Homo sapiens: one gene and its partners. The protein of the gene in region 1 interacts with the protein of each later gene in a pairwise test. Each region holds a gene or a part of one and is shown in the gene's direction. Other genes may lie near its edges. The genes, in order: PLSCR4, RBP3, TENM4 and HDHD3.

The links.
Region 2: the proteins of PLSCR4 (region 1) and RBP3 interact in binary tests that used the Homo sapiens proteins (3 or more experiments, as listed by UniProt).
Region 3: the proteins of PLSCR4 (region 1) and TENM4 interact in binary tests that used the Homo sapiens proteins (3 or more experiments, as listed by UniProt).
Region 4: the proteins of PLSCR4 (region 1) and HDHD3 interact in binary tests that used the Homo sapiens proteins (3 or more experiments, as listed by UniProt).

The regions. Positions count from the first base shown.
Region 1 is NC_000003.12:146,191,930-146,199,145, reverse strand, and holds the end of PLSCR4 (phospholipid scramblase 4), read left to right. Parts: intron 1-2,352; coding exon 2,353-2,514; intron 2,515-3,863; coding exon 3,864-4,022; intron 4,023-4,690; coding exon 4,691-4,735; 3' UTR 4,736-6,811; downstream 6,812-7,216. UniProt on the Homo sapiens protein: Catalyzes metal ion-induced ATP-independent rapid bidirectional and non-specific movement of phospholipids (lipid scrambling or lipid flip-flop) between the inner and outer leaflet of the plasma membrane and participates in the redistribution of phospholipids between membrane leaflets.
Region 2 is NC_000010.11:47,351,363-47,358,578, forward strand, and holds the end of RBP3 (retinol-binding protein 3 precursor), read left to right. Parts: coding exon 1-176; intron 177-1,962; coding exon 1,963-2,153; intron 2,154-4,013; coding exon 4,014-4,156; intron 4,157-5,739; coding exon 5,740-6,095; 3' UTR 6,096-6,519; downstream 6,520-7,216.
Region 3 is NC_000011.10:78,695,972-78,703,187, reverse strand, and holds part of TENM4 (teneurin-4), read left to right. Parts: intron 1-784; coding exon 785-1,662; intron 1,663-7,216. UniProt on the Homo sapiens protein: Involved in neural development, regulating the establishment of proper connectivity within the nervous system. Plays a role in the establishment of the anterior-posterior axis during gastrulation.
Region 4 is NC_000009.12:113,373,888-113,381,855, reverse strand, and holds the start of HDHD3 (haloacid dehalogenase-like hydrolase domain-containing protein 3), read left to right. Parts: upstream 1-4,869; 5' UTR 4,870-5,127; intron 5,128-5,255; exon of another isoform or gene 5,256-6,288; 5' UTR 6,289-6,403; intron 6,404-7,326; 5' UTR 7,327-7,501; coding exon 7,502-7,968.

The DNA.
Region 1 (7,216 bases):
ATACATAAACTGGGTAGTATAATACATCATAGGATTACTGAAATACTTAAATGATCTGTTAAATAACATCCTTTACTAAATATTAATTTTTTACAACCGTCTCCAGGCCTTATTTACCTGTAAAATGGAAATATTAATAGTACCTATCGGATAGGATGATCATTTTAGGGATTAAGTCAATTCTTCTGCACAGTTCCTAGCAAATAGTATAGTACTCAATGAATATTTTCTCTTTTCAGAAATCTTACTCCTTTGTTATTATTGTCTTTGTGATAACAGCCTTATATGTGAAGTGAATACCTATTATCCTTGATCCTTTTGGATATAGTAGGCATTTATCTTCATATTTATGAGTTAGATTTTTTTTTAATCAAAGCCTATAGATACAGCCTTCTGAAATTATAGGAAGCCAGAATAAAGGAAAGCAAATCAAAATTACAGCTGGGCAGGATGGTTTACACCTGTAATTCCAACACTTTGAGAGGCTGAGGTGGGAGGATCACTTGAGGCCAGGAGTTTGAGATCAGCCTGGGCAACATGGTAAAACCCCATCTCTACAAAAATAAAAAATAAAAAAATTAGCCAGGCCTGGTGATGTGTGTCTGTGGTCCCAGCTACTTGGGTGACTAAGGTAGGAGGATCACTTGAGCCCAGGATATCGAGGCTGCAGTGACCTGTGATTACACCACTTCACTCCAGCCTGGGTGACAGAGAAAGACCCTTACTCCTAAAAAAAATTACAAGCCTAGTCCAATTTATGACACTTTTGTCTCATAACTTTACCTAGGTTTTTCTTCAGATTTCTCCAGTTTTACTTGTATTAATTTGTGTGTGTGTGTATACATTTAGTTTGTGCAGTTTTATCATTTGTGTAGATTCCTGTTTCCATCAGCACAATACAAATCCCAAACAGTTCCATCATCACCAAAGTCCTCTTTTATTACCATATCCACATTCCTCCCTCCTCTTTGTCCCTAGCCCTTCAGAACCACTAATCTGTTCTCTATGTTTATAATCTTGTCATTTCGAGAGTGTTATTTTAGCAGAATCATATAGTATGTAACTTTTCAGGATTGGTCTTTTTCATCCACAGTAATTAACTGGAGATTCGTACAAGCTGTTACCACTAGTTCATTCCCTTTTATGGCTGAGTAGTATACCATGGTATGAATTTTTAAGGAATTTATTTTTGTACATTTTTATTTTTATCTCATAGGTTTAAACTTATATGAGAGCTCTATGATACTCTCAAATTTATATATTTGTATATAGGTGTGAATTTATACATATGAACAATAATACCTTAATTTAATAATTTATGAAGCTGTGCAGTCCTGTTCCATGTCCTGGGTAATCCTTTCCCCAAATTCTTATGAAAGTACATGTAACACCAGAGAAATAGTCAATAAAATTTTCACTTTGGGCTTTTACCAAATAATTTAATCTTTATGACTCATTATTATTAAACAGGAAGATCTTAATTATTCACAAAATAATATTGTTGAAGATAAATAGCTAAAAACAGGGTAGTGGACAATATTTTAAAACTTTTAAAAAATGGCTTTATAAACCCATGTACACATTTTGTTGTTTTCACAATATATAATTTTCAAAATGCCTCTTTTTTGTTTTCTGTTATAATTTTCATGTCTGAGATTTGATTTTACCCAATTTCAAATCTAAAAAGTCAGCTTAACTGTTTAATAGACTGAGTCAGAAGAAATGAGACTCCTAGGAAGGAGACAGAGGACCGTTTTACAGCACAGCAAGCAGCATAAGTGTGTAGGTTCCCCTCATCTCCAAGTTCTGAGGTTGACTTGGAGAAGCCCATTGCTTCCTCATTGTAAGCCTTTTATTTTTTACTTATCCTGAGAAAATTGTTCTTTCTGATGGAGAAGCAGTGTAGTGTAGTATCAACAGTAAGCCTTGAAACCAAGCCAACTTATCTCTGTGCCACTTCCTAGTTCCATGTTTTAGAAAGTGTTTAACACTTGCAAGCCTCAGTTTCCTCATCTGTAAAATGGAGATTAAAATACTTATATTTTTCAGAGTTATAAATATCAGCTGTTTATGCAGCTTGCCAACACTGAACTTGGACAACTGGCCATTATGTAACAAGCCCTAATTAAGCCTGCTGTCTATCCCAGAGGCAAACATGACCTCATCCGTTAAAGCTTTTCACTGAAATCCAACCTGAAGAATGGCCTGGGTGAGATGGAAGGCTGTCACTCCCAACAATAATTTCCCTAGTCTTTGAATGAGTGAGGACACATCTAGATTGTGTATGTGCGTATGTGTAAGTGTATGTGTATGCATGTAGCATCCTAACTTCTGTCACTGTTTTGTTTGCAGCTGGAGGTGCAGTGTCCTCCTGGTGTCACCATTGGCTTTGTTGCGGAACATTGGAACCTGTGCAGGGCGGTGTACAGCATCCAAAATGAGAAGAAAGAAAATGTGATGAGAGTTCGTGGGCCATGCTCAACCTATGGCTGTGGTTCAGATTCTGTTTTTGAGGTGAAACTATGTAAAAATAGTGTTTCTGATATTTTTCCTACTCATATTAACAGACCATGGAAAGATCTGGTTGTAGACATTTTTTTTTAATGTGAATGAATAACATAGTGTTAGGAAAGAGTTAATTAACCAGTTGACATCAAAAGATTTTAAAGTTATTGTGAGTAGATTGAGGTTTTCCAAAATGAAAGCTTTTTTTATGACTTCAGTACTTGATAAAAATAAAAAGAAATCATTTAATACATTAAATATTCTGAGAGTAAATAGCTTGACCTAATTCATCTATTCTATTGTTGGCTATATGTAATTAACCATTTTTTTCCCTAGATTTCTAGGCTGGGAATATAGGCTCTAAGTAATGCAAGTGCCCAACATGTCACAGAACATACCAAGTACTCCTTAGGCTGTGGAAATACTTATTTGCAGGATACAAGTCTGTCAGCATCCTCAAGAAATCGGATAACACTAACAATATGGATAAAACTTATAATAGTTTTAACATTTTTTTCAATAAAAAGAAAAATTATTTTGTTTTGCCTTTATCTCACTGGCTACAAAATGCTGGTTCATTACCCTACGAGTCTGACACAGGAAATTCCTAGAAATATTTCCTAGGCTTCTTAAAGAATATTTTTTGAATGCCTTGCAATTAGGCAAGATTCATCATCTTCAAAACTGCTTGCTCATATGTTTCCTATGATACTCAAGAAACTTTCCTTAGTTCTTATTTTCTATTACTGTATCGTTAAGCATTGCTTATTTATTAAAAGAGCAATGTAGATAAGCCAGATTGCTAGGGCAGGGTGTGTGTGATCATTCCCATTGCCAAGTGACATTAGAAGTTAGTATTTGGATATTTTCCCTGTGACAAGTGCCAGGTTTCCCCTTTTAGAAACTGAAGCTCGTTGGTATCTGGCCGTATATTAAGAAGACAAGGTGAATTTCACTCACAAAAACTTAAGTGATGTGAAGTGAACAGTACTTGTTTCCCGGTTTTTGCTCATAGGTTTCCCTAGTTTGGAAGTGACTCTCTCCCAATTCCCACCCTTTACTATGTTGAGAAGAATTTCATAATCAGTTCAAATCATACCTCTTCTTAAAAGGTCCCTTAATAACTCATTTGAAGATGAAGAAAGAGCAGCAGTCTGAGACTTTTAAGAATACCCTAGCTCAGTTATTAACCAGTTGCAAGGCAGTTAACCCTTTTTGGCCATTATTTTCTCATTTCAAATTATATAATTACATAGTCTTTTTCTGCATTGTATTTATGTTATCTGAACATAAGCAGAACATTAAAACATGCTTCAATGCGTTTCAATCATCATAAAGGCACATTCTTGTCATTCCAGGTCAAATCCCTTGATGGCATATCCAACATCGGCAGTATTATCCGGAAGTGGAATGGTTTGTTATCAGCAATGGCAGATGCTGACCATTTTGACATTCACTTCCCACTAGACCTGGATGTGAAGATGAAAGCCATGATTTTTGGAGCTTGCTTCCTCATTGTAAGCCTTCTATTTTTGAGTTATCCTGAGAGAGTTGTTCTTTCTGATGGAGAAGCAGTATAGTGTAGTATAAAGAATAAGCCTTGAAACCAATCCAACTTATCTCTGTGCCACTTACTAGTTACATGGTTTAGAAAGTGTTTACACTTGAAAGCCTCAGTTTCCTCATCTGTAAAATGGAGATTAAAATACTTATAATTTTCAGGGTTATGAATGTTAGCTATCATGGTAAAATGACCAGGGGAGTACTTAGATAACATTAGGTATCCATTGGGTATAATTATCATCATTGCATGTTATTTGTCATTGTCACTACTTAAAAATGCCTAGCCTATGATTTCTTAGTGAAATAACTCTAAAGTGGATGTCCCATTCCTCCTTCCTTTCTGCCTGTCACTGTACTCTTTGGGGTTGTCCAATCCTGAGATTATGAAGTTTTTCCTCTTTTTAATGATGAGATTCAGTTAATTGGCACTTCAAATGGAAAACTAACAGTTCCAAATTTGTAACTGCTGCTCTTCACAGTAGGTGCTCTTCATAAATATTTCCCTAAATTTATGTATTTTAACTGGAATGGGGGAATCCCCTAATAAATTACAAAGGATAATACCGCATGCATTATACCTAATTATCTATATATCTACATATAATTCTTTTTCCAATTTCAGGACTTCATGTATTTTGAAAGATCTCCACCACAACGTTCAAGATAGAGAGACACAGCAAGCCATCAACTATGGTTAATTTTGAAAAATGGAAAAGTTGGATTGGGCTTACAGTCAGCACTCAGTTATTTGCAAGTGTATTTCTTTGCTTTGTAGAGTATTTTTATTGGGTGTTAACTTTGACAGCTGAGAGTGGGCTTGCAAGAACACAATCTAAAAGTGTGTTTCAATTGAGTATCTCTCTAGTAGAATAGGAGTTCATCCTGAAAAGCTGTGACTCATTAACCCAGTAAACATATACAAAGTAAGCTTAAAACACTATAAACATGAGATAAGGGAAAATGAATCCAGAGTTCTCATATTAATAGGTAGTGAAACAATAAGGCTTTTTAGAGCAGACTTTGTTGGCATAAAATAACCTGGCTTCTATCCCTAACCCTTTCCTACCTTTCCTCTCCGTCAACATGTCCTCATACTGAAGACAAACTTGTTTCAATGATAGTCTTCATTTTTAAAAACAAAAAGGCAGGCAGACAGAAATAATGATGTTTTCTTGCACTAAGAAGGTACTACTTGTACACATATATCAAAACCTCATTCTGCAAAGTTTTTGAAGGTTTCAATGGGAAATTTGATTTTATTACAAAATAAAACATTTTTTAATGTTAAAGTTTATATATTCCATGCTTGTTTTCTCATTCACTGGCATGGATGATCAGGAGCTGCCTATATATGAAGGCAGAATCAGACTATCAGGAAAGGAGCTGGCCAGGGCCACAGCCAGTCAAGATCTCTGAGCAACTTAGAGACATTGGTGTCATTATATGAAGCTTGCATTTAATACATTTATACATAATACATTTGTACATTTAATTCATAACGTCTCTTGGTCACAGATGCCTTATATATAAAATAAGTTGCCAGATCTCTAAGATTGCCTAGTACACCTTTGTATCTCATTTGATGTGATACCCAGAAGAGATCATTGTTTTTTGTTTTTGTTTTTGTTTTTTTCAAGAAGATCCTTCGTGATCACCATGCTGTTCTCATGGTAAGAACTGGAGTTATGTTTTTAAATTTGGAAATATGACATTTTATGTAGCACTTTATAAAAAGTGAAAGCGACAAATTCCACCGCTGCTTAATACTGCTTTGCTTCTTTTTATTGACATGATAGATAAATATGTATCTACACAGAGTAATAATAATAAAACACAGTAAACATTCTATTTCTCTATGGTCTACAGCATGCCAGTAAATAATATGTAGGACCAATAATAAATTATCAATTACACATTTTTGTGTTAACTAATTAAAAGCATAGTGTATAAGTGAGTACACTCTAATTAACTTGCTTCTGTTGCACTTTAGTTTTCTACCTGCATATGGACTGCATTTTTTTTTTTTAACACAGTCAGTATGTAGAATGGGATGTATTCTTCTGCTGCTGCTTATTAAATAAAGAAAGCCTGAGTGTTCTTAGATGGGGTTATTCTGAGATGAGGGTCTTAGCCTACAGTTCTTTTTGAAATGAAAGGTGCTTTGTTTTTTAATTATATTCATCTTTTCAGGGTAAATTTGTTTTTCTGAGTTTCTCGTAATGCTCATTTTTACATGCTGCTACTAGCTTTTTTTTTTAAAAAAAGTAAAAGTTGCTGCTTTCTAAAATATTAATTGCCTTATATTTGAAAGTGCCATTGCAATCGTAAGTAGACTATGTATTTCCTATAATGATGTCTGATATTTAAATAGGAAATCAGACAAACAATATTCAGAAAGTTTAAGCATATAAACTTTTTATTTTTAACTTGCCTAAATCCCTGTATTCCAAAACCTGCTGCATCATAATAAATATATCTATATATATTTAGCATAAGACGTGATATTTTTAATTTCTTTTTTAAAAAATTATATTTGTCTCTTAGAGTTAAAATTTTCTTTATATAATATTGTCATATGTCATAGTTTTAATACAATTCACATGATTTCTATGTTTCTTAATGATATTTTGTTGTGTAAAATTGATCGGATTGATTAAAAAACAAATTCTCTGGAATTTGTGCGTTCATGCTTTTTCGTATTCTTTATGGCTTTTAAATAAATATACAATGGTTAATAGTAAAACACTGTTTTATTTTTTGACTTTGAATCTTCAAATACTTTTTTCACAGGGATTTTGAAGTAATTTTTATTGATTATTAGGTTTATTCAAGGCCCTTGCTTTCTAATATAAATTTTAAATTATTTTTAATTTATATATTTAATATATATTTAATTTATATATTTTTAATTATATATATTTATATATAATATATATAATTTATATATAATATATATTATATATATTTTTATAATATATAAAAATATAATTTATATATTTTTAATTTAATAAATTTTAAATTATTAAAGTCAGCCGGGCACGGTGGCTCACACCTGTAATCCCAGCACTTTGGGAGGCCGAGGCGGGCGGATCACGAGGTCAGGAGATCGAGACCACGGTGAAACCCCGTCTCTACTAAAAAAAATACA
Region 2 (7,216 bases), on another chromosome or scaffold:
AGATGGCCACCAAACTGAGCGGTCTGCAGAGCCGCTACTCCAGGGTGACCTCAGAAGTGGCCCTAGCCGAGATCCTGGGGGCTGACCTGCAGATGCTCTCCGGAGACCCACACCTGAAGGCAGCCCATATCCCTGAGAATGCCAAGGACCGCATTCCTGGAATTGTGCCCATGCAGGTGAGACCCAAGAGAGACCTGGCTGAACCCAGTCCCGGGAGTGAGTTGACCCATTGTCCGCACATGCAGGGCTCTGTGCACAGTGCGTGACAATGGCTTTTAGATTTGTTCTCACGTTTAAGTTTTGACCGGTCAAGTCCTTTCCTCTTTCTCAACCTGTTCCATCCACTCTCTGTGACCCTGGGGTTGCTGAACACCTCTGTAGAACATTCATATTAGGTTGGTGCAAAAGTACTTTCAATGGCAAAACCCGCAATTACTTTTGCACCCACCTCACAGGAAGCCAGTTTGAAAGCCAACCAATACTCACAGGAAGCCAGTTCGGAAGCTCCTGGGATAGAAGGCATTTCAGCCTTGGCTGGGTGGAAGGTGAGTGTTGGCAGGGCTTCTCATTGTCAGTGCTAGGGAAGAGGCCAACACCTGTCAGAGGTGGCCAATGGACTTCACCAAGTGCCCCACGCTGGCCGAGAGCTCCACCTAGGCAGCACTCACACCTCCACACTGTTCTACCTGTGGTCTGCTGCATCGTCACAATTGGGCAGGGCAGCATTTGCCATGGGATCCCTTGCAAGGAGGGTCTGAGACCAGGGCTTGGGTGCAGGCGCTTTGTCTGGGAGGCGGTTACTGAAGCAGGCATGAAGGAGGGAGCAGGGAGAGTGGGTTGGGAAGCTGACAGGCAGGTGCCTCAAAGCTGTTCTGCTGAAGCCAGGACCCTGACGAGTGCAGGGATGCTCCCAGGCATAGCCCTCTGCAGGCAGGGCCCAGTGGTTCCTGTCCCGCATTGGCCAAGAGTTGCCCTGAGACATGCCTCAGGGTGGGGCAGGCTCCCTCTTCTTGGAGAAGGCCTGAGCTACGGGTGGAAAGGCAGGGCTGTGCTATAGGAGAGCCTGTCAGTGGGGTCGGGTGCAGCTGAAAGCAGAGGGGGCTGAGAGTGCCAAAAGCATCTACTACAGAATTGTTATCCCCATTTTCCGCAACTGAGGCCCGGAGAGGAGCAGAGGGGAGTGGCCTGAGGCCAGAGAGCTGTGACTGAGGGCAGGGCAGGGCCTGGAGGGCAGTGTCTCTGTCAATGAAGTCTCCTTGCCTGTCAATCTCACCAAGACCTGCCTCCCTCCAGCAGCCTTAGAGAGGGAGGAGGAGGTGCATCCACGTGCGAGTAGCCTGTGCTAGGCTTGCAGAATCCCCAGTTTCCAAATCAACATCTCCTTCCTTTCCAGTATAGCCAAGGTTCACGATTTGGAGTCAGATGTGGATTCAGATTCTGGCTCCACCACTTACTGACTGTGTGACCTGAGACTAGTTACTTAATCTCTCTGTGCTTCAGTTTTTCCATGGAAAAGATGGGGATCGTGTTATCTCCTGTACAGGTGGCTGTGAGGATGATGATAAGCTCTACAAAGTGCTTAGTACCGGGCCAGGTGCCTGGTAAAGGTAACTAACATCTTCCAATCCTGCCCCAGTGGAGCAGCTTAGAGACATAGGAAGTATCTGGTAAGGTTGGAGAGGTCAGAGGGGAGTCCATTCCTGGGCCTTCTAGCTCAGGACACCAGGGCATGTGGGTGGCAGACAGGAGCATCCTCTGCAAGGAGGCTGCCCATAGATCACACATGTCCCAGTGGCATGTCACATCCAGACATGCCACTGGGAAAGTCCCTGGTGTCTACTAATTCCTTCAGAAATGTTAGTTCCTGTCCCATGCCCTTAATATTTCCCATGGCGCCTGCTTTCCTGGGCTCTAAAACTGGCTGCTCCTCCTGACACTGAGTAGGACCTCCAACTCTTACAGATCCCTTCCCCTGAAGTATTTGAAGAGCTGATCAAGTTTTCCTTCCACACTAACGTGCTTGAGGACAACATTGGCTACTTGAGGTTTGACATGTTTGGGGACGGTGAGCTGCTCACCCAGGTCTCCAGGCTGCTGGTGGAGCACATCTGGAAGAAGATCATGCACACGGATGCCATGATCATCGACATGAGGTCAGTGGCCAGGGGTCAGTGCTTCCTAGCCAGGACGCAGGGCTGCCAGGGGACAGTCAAAGCTATGGGCCACAGCAGGGAAGAAAAGGAACCCTGTGACACAGCAGAGGACCTGAGGGGGGCCAGGCCTCCTGCCTATCAGGGCTTCGGCCAGCTAGCCCAGCAGATCTGCTGTCATTGCAGGTGGGGCCCAGCACTGGTAGTTTTTGCAAGCTTCTCCAGTGATTCCAATGTGCATTCCAGATTGAGAATTACCCCAGATTTGCCTGGTCATAGGATTCAGTGGGGAGGAGAGGAAGGAGATGTTAAAAACACTGATTCCTGGGCCCCACTCCCCTCTTACTGACTCAGAAGCTCCAGGGGACAGGCCCGATAATCTCTATTTGACAGGCATCCCAGGTGATTCTGATGGTCAGTGGTGTGTGAGACAGCCAGGCCCCCCACCTGGGAGTGTGCCTCACATCATACAAAATCAACACATGACAACCCTGGTCATATGAATCGTACAGGCAGAATTTGGAAATCACACAGGGAAAATTTAGAAGTTAATCACTATTGTTAACAAAAGAATTCTTTGCATCACCAAATGATTGTCAGAAGGATGTCTTCAGCTAGCCACCTCCCCTCTGTTTCTGTAAAAATGTGCCTCATATGTCATGAGTTTACCTCATGGACCAGGGGTAGGAGGTGGATGAGTACCCTCAGGCAGTGGCCAGACCTGGCATCCCATGACTCTGGGGTCCATTGGTGGACATGCCCCAGCACCCTCCCTGGGCAGGTTGCCTTCCTCAGACGGGACCCTTCCATGCTCCCGTGTTGTCTGAAAGAAGTGGCAGGGGGTGGCAGACCAGAAGCATTCACCCAGCTCCAGTTCTCTAGCCCTCAGCGCTCACTCACATGGTTCTTAGTGGTCACTAGGTGGCTCTCGGTCCTGCACCCACTGCTTCTCCTCCCTGGGAGATAAAACATTAGCCCTGGCTCCAGTTCTGTGTGTGTTCACAGCCTGAGCTTGAGGCTCCTGGGGTCTCTCTGATCATTTTATTCTTTAGAAGTTCTGTTGAGCACCCAAATGACACTCATGCTAAGTCTCTTTCTTCTGAATATGCCATTTACACTTTTTAAAGAGGAGATGGCCCCAGCCTGCAAGTGCACTTTGCTTAAAGACCCTCCCACCCCTGAGGTTTGTTTGGAGGTTCAGACACTGACATCACAGGCCCCGAACCCAGCCAGGCCATCCCAGGCCATCAGTTGGACGAGGCTCCTTAACACATCACTAGCCCCAGTGGGGAGACAGGGGCCCAACGAGGTCACACAGTGGGACAAATCTAAATGGCCTGGGAGAAATACAGGCTCCCCTGCTCCCAATGCAGCTCCACAAGCCTGAATATTTCAATACACTAAGTGCCCTGTTAAGACACCTGAACTAAGACAGCTGGTAGGTGTCATAAGATTGTCACAGAATGCAACGGGAAAAACAATGTTTCCCAAAATGTGTTCCACTCATAGGAAGATATGGGTGCAGGGGAGCAGTCCATGGTCAATAAATGGGGGAAATTTATCAACAAGTTTCTGACTGCAGGACTTGTCAGGGCCTTTAATATATTAACATGTATTAATTACATAGCAGAAGGAAAGGATAACATATTTGATCACTAAGTTTCTTGTTCTAAAGAGACTAGTACTCTTGGAAATACTCTGGAAAATGCCAACCCATGGAATTCTAAAGGAGGAAGAGGCACTAGACTGAGGCTGCCAAGAATTAGAACCCTCCATGGGACAAAGATCCTGGCCTCCCCGAGGGGCACACAGGGCCTCACTGTGAGCTCAGCCCCTGAACAGGCTCTGCTTCCCATCCTTCAGGTTCAACATCGGTGGCCCCACATCCTCCATTCCCATCTTGTGCTCCTACTTCTTTGATGAAGGCCCTCCAGTTCTGCTGGACAAGATCTACAGCCGGCCTGATGACTCTGTCAGTGAACTCTGGACACACGCCCAGGTTGTAGGTACGTGGAGAAGCTTTCTCCTTTCTGCTGTCATTCTAGAAGCTTCTGGGAAACCAGGGAAAGACAGCTTGGGTGTAGGTAAAAGTCATAGTAACCAGAATGTAAGGCCCTGTCCTAGTCCAGGCACTAGATGTGCATGATCTCGAATCCCTGAAAAGCATGTATCACTATGCCCGTTTTCTAGAGGAAAAAAAAGGGGGTGTTGACTAGGTCAAATATCTTTTCTAGGGTCATGCAGCTAATAAGTGAAACCCAAAATGTGAATATTAGTTTGTCTAATACCAAAATTTCCCCCAGGCTTAGCACCATAATCACCAGCCTGCAGGACAAATGCAGAATTTGAAGGATTCTCCCCGCCCCTCACCAACCCCAGTGGGCATTGCCAGTGCTCACAGTACTTGAGCTCTCAAGCCACAGTGCCACAAACTTGCCTGGAAAGGTCATGATGCTGATCGGGCTTCTGTTCCCCGCCCTGGGCCCAGAGCAGTGGCTATAGGAGCAAAGGCAGGCCCTGAGCTTTACAGAACCATAACTCTCAAAGCCCCATTCCAGGGTGGATGGCCTCCATCTATCTTCCCTGCCCAGTGTGTAAGACCAAGGAACTTGTGCTCCTACCCAACAAGAAAGGACTGGAGAGACCGATGGGGGTGTGCCTGTGACCAGAGAAACACCCCACCATTTTCATGTCCATGCTTCTGTAATACACAGGCATTTTGCTGTAGCTCCTAGGACATACGTTCAATAATATTACAAGTGTAAATGCAAATCAGAACCAGGTGAATTCTAAATTCAAATAGATGTTCAAGACTGGAAGTTAAAGATAGACTCAATTCTGCAGATAATGAGGCCCCAAAACCGCAAGGTCCAATATGGGAGCCACAAGCCACCTGCGGCCACCAAGCATTTGAAATGTGGCTCTCCCAAGTTGAGATGTGCTGGAAGTGTGATGTGCTGGAAGTGTAATGTGCATACCAGATTTTGAAGACATTATGAAAAGAAAACCTCATTAATAATTTTATTTGATTACATTTTGAAAAGAATGTATTTTGGATACATTGGCTTAAACAAAACATGATTAAAATTAACACCATGGGTTTCTTTTTGCTTGCTTAACATGGCTACTAGGGAACCTAAAATGACATCTATGGCCAGCATTCTGGCTCACGTTGCATTCCTGTTGGACAGTGCTGTCCTGGAGAGTTGTTCTTATACATCACAAATTGGGCTTTTCTGAGTCCAAAGTGAAAAGGAAGTCAGGTCGGTTTAGGTGTTCTCATTATTCATGAAGAGAGAGGATGCTCCTTTCTCAGGAGAGTCAAGCCTTTCCTATCACTTGGCATAAAAAGGCCTCGTTGGGAGTTGTCAAGCACTGAAATCCTCGTGATTGGGCATGCATTCTTGTCCCCATTTTACGGATGCAGAAATCAAGGCTCAGAGAAGTCAAGTGGCTCACAAGTGGACACAAGGACACAGACCTAAACCCCCGGGCCTCCTCCATCACTGCAGGCCCAGGCAGGATAGAGAAGACAGGTGCTCCAGGGTCCTGACATGACCCCCATCCTGAAGGGCCTTATGTCTTCCAGGTGAACGCTATGGCTCCAAGAAGAGCATGGTCATTCTGACCAGCAGTGTGACGGCCGGCACCGCGGAGGAGTTCACCTATATCATGAAGAGGCTGGGCCGGGCCCTGGTCATTGGGGAGGTGACCAGTGGGGGCTGCCAGCCACCACAGACCTACCACGTGGATGACACCAACCTCTACCTCACTATCCCCACGGCCCGTTCTGTGGGGGCCTCGGATGGCAGCTCCTGGGAAGGGGTGGGGGTGACACCCCATGTGGTTGTCCCTGCAGAAGAGGCTCTCGCCAGGGCCAAGGAGATGCTCCAGCACAACCAGCTGAGGGTGAAGCGGAGCCCAGGCCTGCAGGACCACCTGTAGGGAAGGGCCCCATAGGCAGAGCCCCAGGGCAGACAGAACCTCTGGGACACACACCAAGGGCACTCCTGCAGGTGGCCCGGCCTGAGGTTCCCAGGAGCAGCAAAGGGGCCTGCTGAGCTCTGGTTAGGTTACAGCTGGAGGTGTGTATATATACACACACACACATGTATATACACATATATATGTGTATGTATATATATGTATATATATATGGCTTTCCAATAACCACCTAAATTTTAACAAAGGTTCCTTCTAAGTGGTAGAACTTGGGGTGGTATTTTTACCTTCCTTCTTCATACTTTGCTCTTTTTCTTAAATACTCATTAATGTGCATATATCATTATTTTCAGATGCAGCTATCATTATTCCAAAATACAAAATAAAGAAGATAAAATAAATTATATACCCGAGCCATTAACCACAATTTAGTGATCACTAGTGGTTGTTAAATCTCTTCTTTTCATGAGTTCTCCATTCACATTATTTAGATCTTCTGGATCTGCCCTGCTGACCTCTATGGACAGCTGATTTTATTTAAGATGTGGTGCAAGATGCTGTGGGGTCAGCAGGTGGCAAAGATCTTGTGGATCTTAAATAGGGAAAGGGCTGGTGCGGCCCTTCTGCTGGTGATGTACATACACTGGCTGTGTCTCTTCTGAGCCTCATGCCGGCTGCATAGCTGGCCACTCTCATCTTCTACCCAGGAGCCAGCTGAGACACAGACAAACTCCGCAGCTCACCCAAGGTCACACATCCAGCATGGTGGACCTGTGTCCTCCTTTGGGCCACCCAGCATTTGCAGCACCTTTGGATGATCAGAGAATCACTGCCCATAGGAATCAGTAGGAAACAGTGATGTCAGCCTTGCCTGGGTGGGAAACCAGCCCAGCCACTTCCCCAGCTGAGTGGTTCTGGGCAATTTGTTTCACTTCTTTGGGCCTCAGTTTGTTCACCTGTTCAATGGGAGAAATAATACTACACTTGGAGTTGTGAGAATGAAGTGAGTTAATCTAGTGTCCAGCCAATGTTAGCTGTCATAATTTCTCCACCACAAAGCTGAACACTCTGGAAGCCCCACTTTTCCAGCCCTTCTGGCAGTAGGGCATGGGCATGTGATCCTG
Region 3 (7,216 bases), on another chromosome or scaffold:
ACTCAGGAAGCTTTTCAAAATAATGCCGATGCCCAAGCTCCAAGCCCAGGGATCTGATTTCACCCACCAAGGGTGGGGTTTTCCCACCATTATTTTCTAAAATCGCCACAGATAATTTGAATGTGAGGCCAGATTTGAGAATCACTGGTCTAGAACTATGACAGACAGAGGCCATGGTTAGCTTGTCTTTATGTCTCTAGCAGCTAGCCAGCTGTTAATCCATGAACTCAAAGAATTGAGAAATCATACATGTATCATATCAACCATGTATGAAGAATCTTTCTTAAGCCTCTGAACAACTCCTACTTCAGCCTCCAGACTCCATCTGCCTTTCCCTCCCATCTTAGAACATCAGCTGCCATTATTTGGTGGGTTATGGTGGGTCAGGGACTCTGTGCTCTTGTCATTCCCATTTCCCATATGTGACTATTGAAGCTCAGAGAGGCAAAGTAACTTGCCCACAGTCATAAGTAGTGGACTATGCTCTGAACTCAGGCCTATTTGACTCCAAAGTCTACCCTTTTGCCTACTATTTTGTTGTTGTTAACTCCTTCTTCATGTTTTGTCAGTCTAATGAGACCATCACATGTCTCAGTGGCAGCTCTTTCATGGTTTCCCGGTGATCAGGGGGCTGACGCTTCATTGTTGATGATAGGCTGCATGAGGATCAAGCAAGACTGTATATGAAGCCACTTTGGACACTGTTATGGGCTACATGGGCTATGGGATGGATTAGTGGTGGGCATCTTGCCAGTCATTTGAGTATCGGTGTCTTCATTGTCAGGTTCACCTGGAGTGGCCCACAGACTTAGCCATCAACCCAATGGACAACTCACTTTATGTCCTCGACAACAATGTGGTCCTGCAAATCTCTGAAAACCACCAGGTGCGCATTGTCGCCGGGAGGCCCATGCACTGCCAGGTCCCTGGCATTGACCACTTCCTGCTAAGCAAGGTGGCCATCCACGCAACCCTGGAGTCAGCCACCGCTTTGGCTGTTTCACACAATGGGGTCCTGTATATTGCTGAGACTGATGAGAAAAAGATCAACCGCATCAGGCAGGTCACCACTAGTGGAGAGATCTCACTCGTTGCTGGGGCCCCCAGTGGCTGTGACTGTAAAAATGATGCCAACTGTGATTGTTTTTCTGGAGACGATGGTTATGCCAAGGATGCAAAGTTAAATACCCCATCTTCCTTGGCTGTGTGTGCTGATGGGGAGCTCTACGTGGCCGACCTTGGGAACATCCGAATTCGGTTTATCCGGAAGAACAAGCCTTTCCTCAACACCCAGAACATGTATGAGCTGTCTTCACCAATTGACCAGGAGCTCTATCTGTTTGATACCACCGGCAAGCACCTGTACACCCAAAGCCTGCCCACAGGAGACTACCTGTACAACTTCACCTACACTGGGGACGGCGACATCACACTCATCACAGACAACAATGGCAACATGGTAAATGTCCGCCGAGACTCTACTGGGATGCCCCTCTGGCTGGTGGTCCCAGATGGCCAGGTGTACTGGGTGACCATGGGCACCAACAGTGCACTCAAGAGTGTGACCACACAAGGACACGAGTTGGCCATGATGACATACCATGGCAATTCCGGCCTTCTGGCAACCAAAAGCAATGAAAACGGATGGACAACATTTTATGAGTAAGTACTAAAACAAGGCCATTTGATGATTTTGTTTCATTAATTCATTGTAGGATTGGAGGTAAATTGATCGAGTATTTTATTTTAATTCAGGATTTGGGATAAAAACTATTACTTATAATACATTCTACATGTTCATATTCCACATGATTTCTCCTAGGAAGGAAATGGTCTAGTGGAGAAGGCATAAGCTTTGGAGTCAGAGGAGCTGGGCATCAGTTCCCACTCTACCATGGACTTAATCCCTATTGGCCTCAGTTTCCACATCTGTAGAATGGATACAGTGGATACCTGCCCAGCATACCACAGGGAGATGGTGTAGATGAAAAGTACTTACCTGATGAAGTGCTAGCATCTTCATATGACCACTGTCCACAAATGTGGCAAGGGGAGAAGGAACAGGCACATGTGGATGAATTTTCCACATAATTGAAGCTCTTGTCTTCAAATTCCAAAAAAAAACCCTTTTCATTTTAACCATTTTGCATGGGACTTTTCTTATGAAGTGTATTGCATACCTCCCTTCTCAAACACACTACACAGACATAATGAAACCTTTCTTTTTCTGATTCAGGGTCATTAATAAGGAACAACAATTGCATATTACGCTGTAATATGAAGAGAGCTTTCAGGAAGTAGGGAAATGAGGATATAGAGCCCTTTGCCCCTGCCTGAAGTGATTTTAAACCATTACTTTATTAGGCCCTGTATCTAAAGGGTAGGTTTCTCTGCCTCCTCCCTCAGGGTTGTGCTGTGGTGTCACTATTTATTTCAGTCCTAGTGCCCACCTCAAGTAGCTCATTTCTTTATTCTTCATCCAGTGGAGGACTTCTTAAGAGGTGTGATCAGAGAACCAGAAGTTCAGCTTATTATAATCCTAGCAACAATTAAATATATATATCTGGGGTGTTCCTCTAAGAGATATTTAATGAATGGACTAACATCGCTCTTTCTACTTAGATTTTTTTAAGCTGCTTTTTGAGGTCTTAGCCATGGTTCACACGACTGAGATTGCTGAATATGTCACCATTAGATAAGCATGTGAGAGGTGGGGAAGGAACTAGCCTTGTTGAGTATTAGCTGTGGGCTAGGAGCTACACCACTGCATTTAATCTGCACAACAGCTCTGAGGATGGGTGATATTATCCATTTTACAGACATAGAAACTGAGGCTCTGAAGGCTCCTTTGCCCACTGTTTGATAGTGAGACATGGCAGAACAGGGATCGCAGTCCAAGTCTGATGCCAGAGCTTGGGCTTTCTCAGTGCTGCCCTGCTGCCCTCCCTGCATCCTACCCCCGCACCAGTGCCACACTGAGTTTGTTAATTCCAAATGAACCTGACTCTTTAAAGTTTTTCTCAAGCTTGATCAAGCATCAGTTTCTAACAGTCCTAGGAGAATCCAAAGGAAAAGGATCTGTAGTTGATTTTTAAATATAATTTGAACAGACATGTCACAGCGATTTGTACAAAGTTCACTGGCTAAATTCCTTTCTCCAAACAAGGACCTTGTTAATTACAAAGAAAAGACAAAGATCCAGGAAAACAGCAATTATCTTGATTAACTCATTGGAATGGAAATACGCTAAATAATTCCATTTTGCCCATTGCCCGATGGAAATCTCTTATACATTATTTAGCCAATACAGGGGTTTCTTTGTCAGAGCAAGTCTGTGCACTCAATTAGTTCCCAAAGTCACTCCCTCAGATCCCAAACCGAATGCTCACACATCACTGCATCCATTACGCTCCACCACCCCTGAAATCTAAAACGGTTTCCTACACTTCTACCAGGAAAGATCCCTCCCTTTCTTTCCTTGATGAAATATACAGCTATAGTTGATGTTTAGTGAAGAAGGAAAAGTTTTTACAATTGCTTTTTTATAAAATGGCGTCTGGAATTCCAAAGACTGCACTTCATAGCGGTACCCAAGAGTGGTTATCCTTGTTAACACAAACCAGAAGTGGTAGATAAAAGTCCTAAAATAGAAAGGGAAACTAGTTTGTTTTTGTTTTTGTTTTTGTTTTCTGAGATCCTACTATGTGCCAGGCTCTTTCCCATTTAATCTTCACAGCAACCTCAGATGGCAGGAATTATCATCCACATTTTTTACATATGAAGTACAGAGAGATTAGATAACAAGCCTGAAACCACACAGTGAGTATGTAGCAGAACCAGAACACAAGTCCCTGTTCTTTCAACTGCACTGGCTAGGGTCACCTACATTCTTTGTGACTTATCTGTACGATAGGGATGACAATAGTTATGTATTTCATAGGAATAGTATGAGGTTCAAAATTTCAGTGAGATAAAATATGGAAAGCTCAGTGTCTGATTGATTATAAGTACTCAAATGATAGCTGCTGCAGTTGTTGTTGTTGTTGTTGTTGTTGTTAATGCAAGCAATATTAGTGGCAGTACCAGTAATTGCAGAAGTGTTGTTTGGGTGTGAAAGGTATTTCCCAGGAGCAACTGCAAGTAAACTAATCAAAAGAGTAGACAAAAGTTTTAATTGAGGTAGGTAGGAATCAGAGGTCAGGTGAGAAGAGCAGAATCAAATATGAGAGATCAAGAAATGAACTAAGAAAGAAGTCAGATCCCTGAGAATATCCAAAGTCGGCTGGAAAATAACACGCAGAGCCACCCAAGGCAAAATGGTCCAGCTCAGGCTGAGAATGAAGCAAGGGTGCCAGACACCTATTTTCACTGGCTGCGAGCCATGTGACTCAGGGACAGGCTAGCTGGCCTCCAGACCCAAGTCTCAACCAGACAGAAATAATCCCCTGCCCTACCCCATTTCTGGGCTATTATGAGGACTAAAAAACTAAATAAATACTGAAAGTAAAAAAACTTTGCAAACTATGAGGCTGTCTAGAATTAGAGGTGTACAGATATTTCATTATGGTGTTTCTTAACAAGGATTTGGACAGATTTTGCCAATGAACCATTAATCTAGTGAATTTTCTACCTTTAGCTTCATGAGGCAGTTTAGTAGATTATAACCGAAATGTTCTATTTTTCTAAAAAAAAAAATTGCCCAGGCTTGCCTGTGACATAGGCTATTATTGAAACAAGCTGTTTGTTTATTTGTTTGTTTGTTTGGTTGGTTGGTTGGTTGGTTTGGTTCGGTTTGGTTTTTGAAATGGAGTCTCGCTCTGTTGCCCAGGCTGGAGTGCAATGGTGCGATCTCGGCTCACTGCAACCTCCACAGTTCTCCTGCCTCAGCCTCCTGAATAGCTGGGATTACAGGCATCTGCCACGACGCCCGGCTAATTTTTGTATTTTTAGTAAAGATGGGGTTTCACTATATTGGCCAGGCTGGTCTCAAACTCCTGACCTCAAGTGATCCGCCCACCTAGGCCTCCCAAAGTGCTGGGATTACAGGCATGAGCCACCGCACCCGGCCTGAAACAAGTTTTAAGTCAGCTTTGCCAATTCTCTTAAAAGATTAAATAGTACACCTAACATAAACATCACACACTTCAGAGCACCTTGATTTACAGAGTTCACAGTTTTGGAGAATCAAGGTTACTTTCCTCCCCTCAGCCCACAGGTCTGCTGGTAGGAAGCTCAAAGGAGTCTGAAATGCAGTCCCCACCTCCCATGTGTGGCATCGTTACTCTCAGACTTAGCTCCTGGTCAGATGGCATTTGGTGGCTGAGAAAATGGCCTCATAAGTATGAGGCAGGTTCCAGAATTGACTTGCTGGATGGATATGAGCAACCCCCTTCCCTGAATTTCATAGGGGAAGGGGCTCTGGCCTCCCACAGTGCCCTGTGACAACTCCTATTATAATTATGCTCACCTTAACTACTGTGAGACCCTTACAAATTTGTCTTTGCGTCAAGCTTAGGGTTTGCCAACTAGTCGGCTGACAGATAGTCAATATTTTATAATGACACGTAAATTCAGAATGGAAGGGAAATAGAGACAGGAAGAAAAGATATGCTGTAGTGAGAAGAATGCTAGATTCACGTCTGAGCACCAGCACTGCCAGTGCTCCCAACGGGACATAGAACTCAACTGAAATGGGTCAAATGAAGAGATTTGGCCTCTGGTTTTTACTTGGGGATAGGAAAGCTGGAAAGTGCATCATGCCCAACCTTATCATGAAAATAAGCCAGACAAAAGGTAAATTCGTGCGTTTCCTTGAACTCCTTCTCTGAGGTCAAATCCAAGGAGAGACAGAGTCTTGCAGAAAGAGACAAGATGTGGGCCCTGCACCACATCTTGCTGCTTGTGGGCAGATGCACCAGCTCCGGGGAGAAAGAGTTCAGCTGGGATGGCTGGTGAATTTACAAAGGCTAAGTGTGTACTGGCAAGAGAGTCTGAAGCCCTTGGAGGCTGTAGCAATTGGGCAGGTCCATGTCTTCTTAGGGACTTTTTTCTCTACAAATCCCACCAGGAGTTTTCCCACAGAAAAGAGTGAGGAAAGATTTAAGAAGAAAGTGTCCTTTGTGGTCGACCTGGGGGAAGGTCACAGCAGCTGCTGAGGGAGGAGCATACACCCCTGACCACTCTACCCAGACCCTGCTCACCTCATCTTCCATCAGGAACAACACCCTTCATCTGTGAAGAGAAGGGCAGCGAACACTGTCCTGCCTAGGCACTGGGGAAAATCCTTTCAGCTGAATGAGGGAAGAAAAGAAATGGAAAAAAAAAAATCCCACATACCTGAGAGTCAGAACCCTAGCAAAGGCTTTGCCACCACCATAGTTAGCTGGAAGGCTAAAAGCATCAGTGAAGGGCAGAAGACTGCTGGGAGGGAGTTAGAGAACGGCAGGAACATGGAAAGAGACCCTCTCTGAGTCAGCACAAAGGGAGGACCCAAGGGCTGAACTGTGGACCTTGAGGGAAAAAAACCCTCTGGCAAACCAGTTTCACATCCTAAACACAGGGAATTGCTAAGGGAATTTAAAACCTATGATACCTAGAGGCTAACCATAAACAGACTTCAAATCCTAGGTTAACCCAAACCCCCTCACAAAAGTCCTAGCACAAGGAAACTCACACCCATTTCCAGGCATAAACCTATCACTCACTCAGGCTCTACCATGCTACACAAGATGTCACGCTTTCAACTGAACGTACAAAAGGGCAAGAAAAGGCAACACATTCCCGAGAGGCAAAGAAATCATCAGAATCACGTTCAGGTATGACACAGGTGTTGAAACTATCTGTCAGAGAATTTAAAATAACTATAATTATTTTAAAGGCTCTAATGGAAAAGGCGAACAATGTGCAAGATCAGATGGATAATTTTAGCAGAGAGACAGAAACGATAAGAAAGAATCAAATGGAATTGTTAGAAATGAAAACCACGGTTATAAGGATGAGAAATGCCTTTGATGGGCTGCTCTCTCTGGAGGACACAGCATGACACAGCTGAGGAAAGAAGATGGTTAATAGAAATTACCCAAACTAAAATACAGAGAGGAAAAAAAAGAGTGGAAAATGCAGAACATGGCATTCAAGATCTGTGGGACAACATCCAATAGTCTGATATACATGTAATTGGAATTCCAGGAGAAGAGGGAAAAAATAGGGCAGAAGA
Region 4 (7,968 bases), on another chromosome or scaffold:
AGGCAGAGGTTGCAGTGACCCCAGATCGCATCACTGCACTCCAGCCTGGGTGACAGAGTAAGACTCTGTCTCACAAAAAAAAAAAAAAAAAAAAAGGGCCAGGCTCGGTGGCTCATGCCTGTAATCCCAGCACTTCGGGAGGCTGAGGCAGGTGGATCACCTGAGGTCAGGAGTTCAAGACCAGCCTGGCCAACATGATGAAATCCTGTCTCTACTAAAATACACAAATTATCTGGGCGTGGTGGCAGGCACCTGTAATCCCAGCTACTCGGGAGGCTGAGGCAGAAGAATCGCTGGAACCCAGGAGGTGGAGGTTGCAGTGAGCTGAGATGGCACCATTGCACTCCAGCCTGGGCAACAAGAGTGAAACTCCGTCTCAAAAATGGAAGAAAGAGAGAAAGAGACAGAGAGAGAGGGAGGGAGAGAGAGAGGGAGGGAGGGAGGGAGGAAGGAAGGGAGGAAGGGAGGGAGGGAAGAAGAAAGGAAAGAAAGAAAGGGAAGGGAAGGGAGGAGGGAGGGAGAAAGGAAGGAAGGAGAGAGAGAGAGAAAGAGAGAGAGAGAAGAGGGAGGGAGGGAGAGAAAGAAAGGAGAGAGAGAAAAGAGGGAGGGAGACAGAGAGAAAGAATGAAAAAAAAAGAAAGAAAGGAGGGAAGGAGGAAGAGAAAGAAAGAAAGAGAGGAAAGAAAGAAAATTAGATACATGTTTGTGTGCTGCTAGAAAACTGTGTCATAGCATAACCAAAACTGTCACCTCAGCAATCCCTGGGGAGTGAGATGGGGTGGGGAAGCCCTTCTCTCCCTGCCCCAAGGCTACTGCCCTTGTTCAGTAAGCAGGCTGAGGCCCCACACCCTTCTTTCCGGTTCCTCACCTGGAGTACTTTCCTTGATCTTAACCTGACAACCTCCTTCTCACCATTCAGATCTTTGTTCCTTCCTTGACCACCTCATCCAAAGAGATACCCTGTCACTGTTCATAAAATGATTGTTTTTACCGCTTCCACTTCTCTCTCTGAAATCACTTTGTTTATTTATCTACTCAATGGTTGTCTGCCCCTCCCATGCCCCATGCAGGCAGGAACCACCTTGTTTCCCACTGAATCCTCAGAGAAGGACAGGGGACACAGAGCCCACAGATGTTAGGTGGTCAATGAATGAGGTTGGGTGTTGGTGGGGGGCTGGCTTTTTATTTTGTACACGTTTGTATTTTGCATTATTATTATTATTTTTTGAGACAGAGTCTTGCTCTGTCACCCAGGCTGGAGTGCAATGCTGTGATGTCAGCTCACTACAACCTCTGCCTCCCAGGTTCAAACAATTCTTGTGCCTCAGCCTCCCGAGTAGCTGGGATTACAGGCACCTGCCACCATGCCCCACTAATTTTTGTATTTTTAGTAGAGATGGGGTTTCACCATGTTGGTCAGGCTGGTCTCAAACTCCTGACCTCAAGTAATCCACTGGTCTCGGCCTCCTAAAGTGCTGCAATTACAGACGTGAGCCACCACACCCAGCCTGTTATTATTTTTTAACAAGATGGGGTCTCACTTTGTTTCCTAGGCTGGTCTCATACCCCTGAGCTCAAGGGATCCTTCCACCTTAGCCTTCCAAAGTGCTAGGATTTCAGGCATGAGCCACTATGCCTAACCCTGAATATGTCTGTATTTTTTTTAATAGGAGAAAAAGCATATACATTTATTTGATCATAGTTTTTTTGTGACATGGGAGCCTTCAGAATGAAGAGCCACAGATACAGAGGAAACTGTCCATTTTTATGCTTAGGTTCAACGAAGTGTACATGGCCGTGTATGTAGGGAAAAGAGAGATCAGACTGTTATTGTGTCCATGTAGAAAAGGGAGACATAAGAAACTCCATTTTGACCTGTACCCTGAACAATTGCTTTGCCCTGAGATGCTGTTAATCTGTAACTTTGCCCCAACCTTGAGCTCACAGAAACATGTGTTGTATGGAATCAAGGTTTAAGGGATCTAGGGCTGTGCAGGATGTGCCTTGTTAACAAAATGTTTACAGGCAGTATGCTTGGTAAAAGTCATCGCCATTCTCCATTCTCGATAAACCAGGGGCACAATACACTGCGGAAAGCCGCAGGGACCTCTGCCCTGGAAAGCCTGGTATTGTCCAAGGTTTCTCCCCATGTGACAGCCTGAGATATGGCCTCGTGGGATGGGAAAGACCTGACCGTCCCCCAGCCCGACACCCGCGAGGGGTCTGTGCTGAGGAGGATTAGTAAAAGAGGAAGGCCTCTTGAAGTTGAGATAAGAGGAAGGCCTCTGTCTCCTGCCTGCCCCTGAAACTGAACGTCTCGGTATAAAACCCGATTATACATTTGTTCAATTCTGAGACAGGAGAAAAACCGCGCCGTGGCGGGAGGCGAGACATGTTGGCAGCAATGCTGCTTTGTTATTCTTTTCTCCACTGAGATGTTTGGGTGGAGAGAAGCATAAATCTGGCCTGTGTGCACATCCAGGCATAGTACCTTCCCTTGAACTTATTTGTGACTCAGATTCCTTTGCTCACATGTTTTCTTGCTGACCTTCTCCTCACTATCAGCCCGCTCTCCTATCGCATTCTTCTTGCTGAGATAGTGAAAATAGTAATCAATAAATACTGAGGGAACTCAGAGACCAGTGCCAGAGCAGGTCCTCCGTATGCTGAGCGCCGGTCTCCTGGGCCCACTGTTCTTTCTCCATACTTTGTCTCGGTGTCTTATTTCTTTTCTCAGTCTCTCGTCCCACCTGATGAGAAATACCCACAGGTGTGGAGGGGCAGGCCACCCCTTCACATGTAGAAACAGGATTGCACAAAACGCTAATAGACTGAATAGAGAAACCCACCAAGACCCATCTGTGTAGATTCTTCTTGGCCTCTCTGTGCAGTGTTCCTTCCTCCAGGGTATGCGGCAAGACCCTCTCAAAGGGGCCTGGGTGGTGGGGGCTGTCTTATGACCTGTCTTGCCTAAGGTCATAGTGCAAGGTGATGAGACTAAAGAGGAACAGAGCACAGGCACAGAAGTATCTCAAAGCTTCCCCTCCGGTACCTCCCCAGCCTCTTTGGCCCAAACCCCCTGGCTAGCAACATTCCTATAGTTCCTCAGTGTCTCTTTGGTTCGGAAAAAAAACTTTCTTGCCTGGAGGCCTTTGCATCAGGGGGTCCCTTAACCATCACTCAGATCCTTCCCCTCTGCATGGCCAACTCTCATATGTTTGTATTTTTTAGTTTTTTGAGACTAACATGCATTACATGCATACCTTATTTATTTATTATTTTTTTATTTTTTTATTTTTTTGAGATGGAGTTTTGCTCTTGTTACCCAGGCTGGAATACAGTAGCCTGATCTTGGCTCACTGCAACCTCCACCTCCCCGGTTCAAGCGATTCTCCTTCCTCAGCCTCCCAAGTAGCTGGGAATACAGGCATGAACCACCTCGCCTAATTTTGTATTTTTAGTAGAGACGGGGTTTCACCGTGTTGGCCAGGCTAGTCTTGAACTCCTGACCTCAGGTGATCCACCCACCTCAGCCTCCCAAAGTGCTGGCATTACAGGCGTGAGCCACCGCGCCCAGCCAACATACATTACTTTTGCAAACAAAGATAAAACTCTTTTTTTATTCTTCAAAAGAATAAAAAAGCTCCCTGGTGGTCTAGTGGTTAGGATTCCAGGCTCTTACCACAGGGATCTTTTTTTTTTTTTTTTTTTTTGGGGACACAGTCTCGCTCTTTGCCCAGGCAAATATTGTGCAGTGGCAGAATCTTGGCTCACTGTAAGCTCCGCCTCCCGGGTTCATGCCATTCTCCTGCCTCAGCCTCCCGAGTAGCTGGGACTACAGGCACCTGCCACCATGCCCGGCTAATTTTTTGTATTTTTAGCAGAGACAGGGTTTCACCGTGTTAGCCAGGATGGTACCACAGGGTTCTTAAAAACAAAAAGAGGCCAGGTGCGGTGGCTCATGCCTGTAATCCCAGCACTTTGGGAGGCTGAGGTGGGCGGATCACCTGAGGTCAGGAGTTCAAGACTAGCCAGGCCAACACGGCGAAACCCTGTCTCTACTAAAAATACAAAAATTAGTTGGGTGTGGTGGCACACACCTGTAATCCCAGCTACTGGGGAGTCTGAGGCAGGAGAATCGCAAGAAACTGGGAGGCGGGGGTTGCAGTGGGCTATCGCGCCACTGCACTCCAGCCTGAGCGACAGAGGGAGACTCCGTCTCAAAAAAAAAAAAAGAGAAAGAATAAAAAAGCAGGTTACTGCAGCGGACTCTACCCTCACCAAGTTATCTTGGATTTAACAAGTTTCCAACTGAAAGCAATTCCCTCCAATACCAACTGGGGACCCTGAGACCAGAGAGGGGCTGGGCCTTGCCCAGGTTCACACAACACTAAGCAAGCCAGGCTGGGTCCCAACTCCCCTCCTCCCACTCAACCTGGGTACTTCTCGGGGGTTTCCCGATCCAAAGGAGGCCAGGAGCCGGGGTTGGGGATGGGGAGCGGAGACAGCGGTGAGGAGCGGCGGTGTGGCGGGCAGGGGGTGCGCAGACAGGGCGGAGAAGGTGCTGGTAACGGGGGCTGCGGAGCGGAAGGGTGCGGGCTGGGGAACCTCAGAGGGTGCGGGGAGGGAATAAGGGGCGTAGATGGTGCAGGGTAACGGAGGCGCGCAGTGAAGGCGGGTGACAGGGGCGCAGAGAGGTGCACAGTGAGACGAAGGAGGGAGAGGGGACGGCGAGGGCGACGGGAGATGGGGCGGGAGAGGGCGAAGGTGAGGGGGATAAGGGCGGGGACGGGGCGGGGACAGAGGCGGGTCGGGATGGTAGGGAGGGGCGGCCCGCGCGATCCCCGCCCCACCGCCCGGCGCTTGCGCACCTCCGCCCGAGCTCGCGGGCCTTGCGGCTGCGTTTTCAATCTGCTTCCTTGTGAGTCAGGTGGGTCCTGGGCCCAGGAACCGGCCCGGAGCCGTGGACGCCCTACAGCTGAGAAGGGGACCCAAGGGGTCGGCCGCGGCCAAGGCCCCTAGGACCGCCGCCCCAGCTCACGCTGCCGACGGCAGCTATAGACATTCTGCGTCAGGTCCGGGCTCCTGGACTTCGCCTTTCCCGAGCCCTGGAGGTGGGGAGAAAAGGTGAGCAGTTCGTGCCTGCAGCGCAGAGCCCCAAACCCGCGGTTTTAGAAATCGAAAAAGCCCTGCCGGGCGCGGTGGCTCACGCCTTTACCGTAATCCCAGCACTTTGGGAGGCCGGGGGGCGGGGTGGGGCGGGGGAGGATCACGAGTTCGGGAGTTCGAGACCAGCCTGGCTAACATAGTTGAAACCCCGTCTCCACTAAAAATACAAAAATTAGCCAGGTGTGGTGGCGCGCGCCTGTAGTCCCAGCTACTCTGGAGGCTAAGGAAGGAGAATCGCTTGAATCCGGGAGGCGGAAGTTGCAGTGAGCCGAGATCGCACCACTGTACACCTGGGTGACAGAGTGAGACTCTGTCTCAAAAAAAAAAAAAAAGAAAAAAAGCCGGCCGGGTATAGTGGCTCACGCCTGTAATCCTAACACTTTGGGAGGCTGAGGTCGGGAGTTCGAGACCAGCCTGGCCAACATGGAGAAACCCCGTCTCTACTAAAAATACAAAAAAAAAAGGAGCCGGGGATGGTGGCGCATGCCTGTAATCCCAGCTACTTGGGAGGCTGAGGCAGGAGAATCGCTTGAACCTGGGAGGCGGAGGTTGCAGTGAGCCGAGATCGCGCCATTGCACTTCAGCCTGGGCAACAAGAACGAAACTCCGCCTCAAAAAAAAAAAAAAAAAAAAAAAAAAGCCGTGGGTCAGGAGCCAGAGCCCTCTGCTCTAGTCTTAGCTGTGCCAATGTGACTCCCTGTGTGATTTGGGGGTAAATTACTGCCCCTCACTGGGTCTCTGTCTACCCACCTGCAAAATGAGAGGATCTTTGGATGAGTCTCCTTAATTCATTTCCTGGACAAACTTCCTCCAAGGCTCCCCCAGATTTACCAGTGACGCCCTTCCCTAAGTATCAACTTAGCCGTACTTTGAACTCTGGCCCCTCAGGTTTCAAGGGGACGGCCTTGTCTGGGATCAGCTCTGTCTGGGGAAAGAAGCTGCACCAGCCTCTGGATAGCAGGCTGAGTCACTTGTTTCTTGTGCCTTGAGTCAGTTCTCTCATCAGCTCTCCTCCTAGGCCAGTGTTATTACCTCCAGTAAAGATGGAAAAGTTGGGGTTCAGAGAGGGCTAGAGACAGACAGCCTGCTGTGTCCTGTCTTTTCTCCTGTGCTGTACAGGTTCACCAATTTTTAAAATCCAAATATATCTCATGGTACAGTGGAAGAACTGGCCAGAGAGTCTGGAAGTTTGGGTTCTGGTCCTGGCTGTGCCACTGACTCACTGTGACCTTGGGTAAGTACCTGCCCCTTTCTGGCTCAGTCTACTCTGCCCAGCAGCCAAGATATCGTTCATATGCTCTGCAAGGCCCCTTCTGTCTTTGACATCCCTAATAATGATAATAGCAATCATAATAATTGTGTCCTGTGTGCCAGACAGCTGGCCTCTGTCTACTTGCCCTGCCTCAGGGCCTTTGCACTTGCTATTTCCACTGACGGGAGCACTCACCTACCTCTGCTTCTTGCACATTCATTCTTCTGATCTCCATTGAAACTTGACTTGCAGGGCTGGGAGTGATGGCTCATGCCTGTAATCCCAGTACTTTGGGTGGCCAAGGCTGGGGGATCACTTGAGTCCAGGGGTTGGAGAGCAGCCTGGGCAACATAGTGAGACCCACCCCGCCCCACCACCCCACATCTCTACAAAAAGTTCAAAAATTAGCCGGGCATGGTGGCACGTGCCTGTAGCCCCAGCTACTAGGGAGGCTAAAGCAGGAGGATTGACTGAGCCTGGGAGATCGAGGCTGCAATGAGCCATGCACTCCAGCCTGGGAGACAGAGAGAGACCCTGTCTCACAAAAAAATTAAAAAAAATAAATAAAAAGAAACTTCACTTGCTTATGACATTCCCTAACTACACAGACTAGATGCGGTCCCTGGATTTAGATCCTTACGGTATCTATTGACTTCATTATATTTAAGTGTTTGTATAGTTCTTTGCCTAATATCCGTATCCCTGTTCTTCAGTGCCTGTAAATGCCCTAAGGGCTGGAAATCTATCCCATATGCTAGCAGCTAGCTCAAAAAGGTGCTCAGAAATTTGTTGTGGATTCAGAGTGACTTTCCTAGGGTCACACCATTGGCAGCACCAGAATTTGAACCCAGTCTGTCTGATGTCAGGGCCTGAGCTTCCACCTTACCTGCTATTTTTCATTCTAGGATCTTGTGCTGTGAAGACATTTCCCAAGTGCTTCATGTTAGCCAGCAAATCTGACCCACAAGGCCTGGAAAGAGGTGATTGTTAGGTTGCGCAGAGGTGGTCTTATCCAGCTCAGCTTCCCCTGGGACCCACCGTGGGACCTGAGGCAGAACTGGGGTGGACTTGGCCTCCTCCATGGCACACCGGCTGCAGATACGACTGCTGACGTGGGATGTGAAGGACACGCTGCTCAGGCTCCGCCACCCCTTAGGGGAGGCCTATGCCACCAAGGCCCGGGCCCATGGGCTGGAGGTGGAGCCCTCAGCCCTGGAACAAGGCTTCAGGCAGGCATACAGGGCTCAGAGCCACAGCTTCCCCAACTACGGCCTGAGCCACGGCCTAACCTCCCGCCAGTGGTGGCTGGATGTGGTCCTGCAGACCTTCCACCTGGCGGGTGTCCAGGATGCTCAGGCTGTAGCCCCCATCGCTGAACAGCTTTATAAAGACTTCAGCCACCCCTGCACCTGGCAGGTGTTGGATGGGGCTGAGGACACCCTGAGGGAGTGCCGCACACGGGGTCTGAGACTGGCAGTGATCTCCAACTTTGACCGACGGCTAGAGGGCATCCTGGGGGGCCTTGGCCTGCGTGAACACTTCGACTT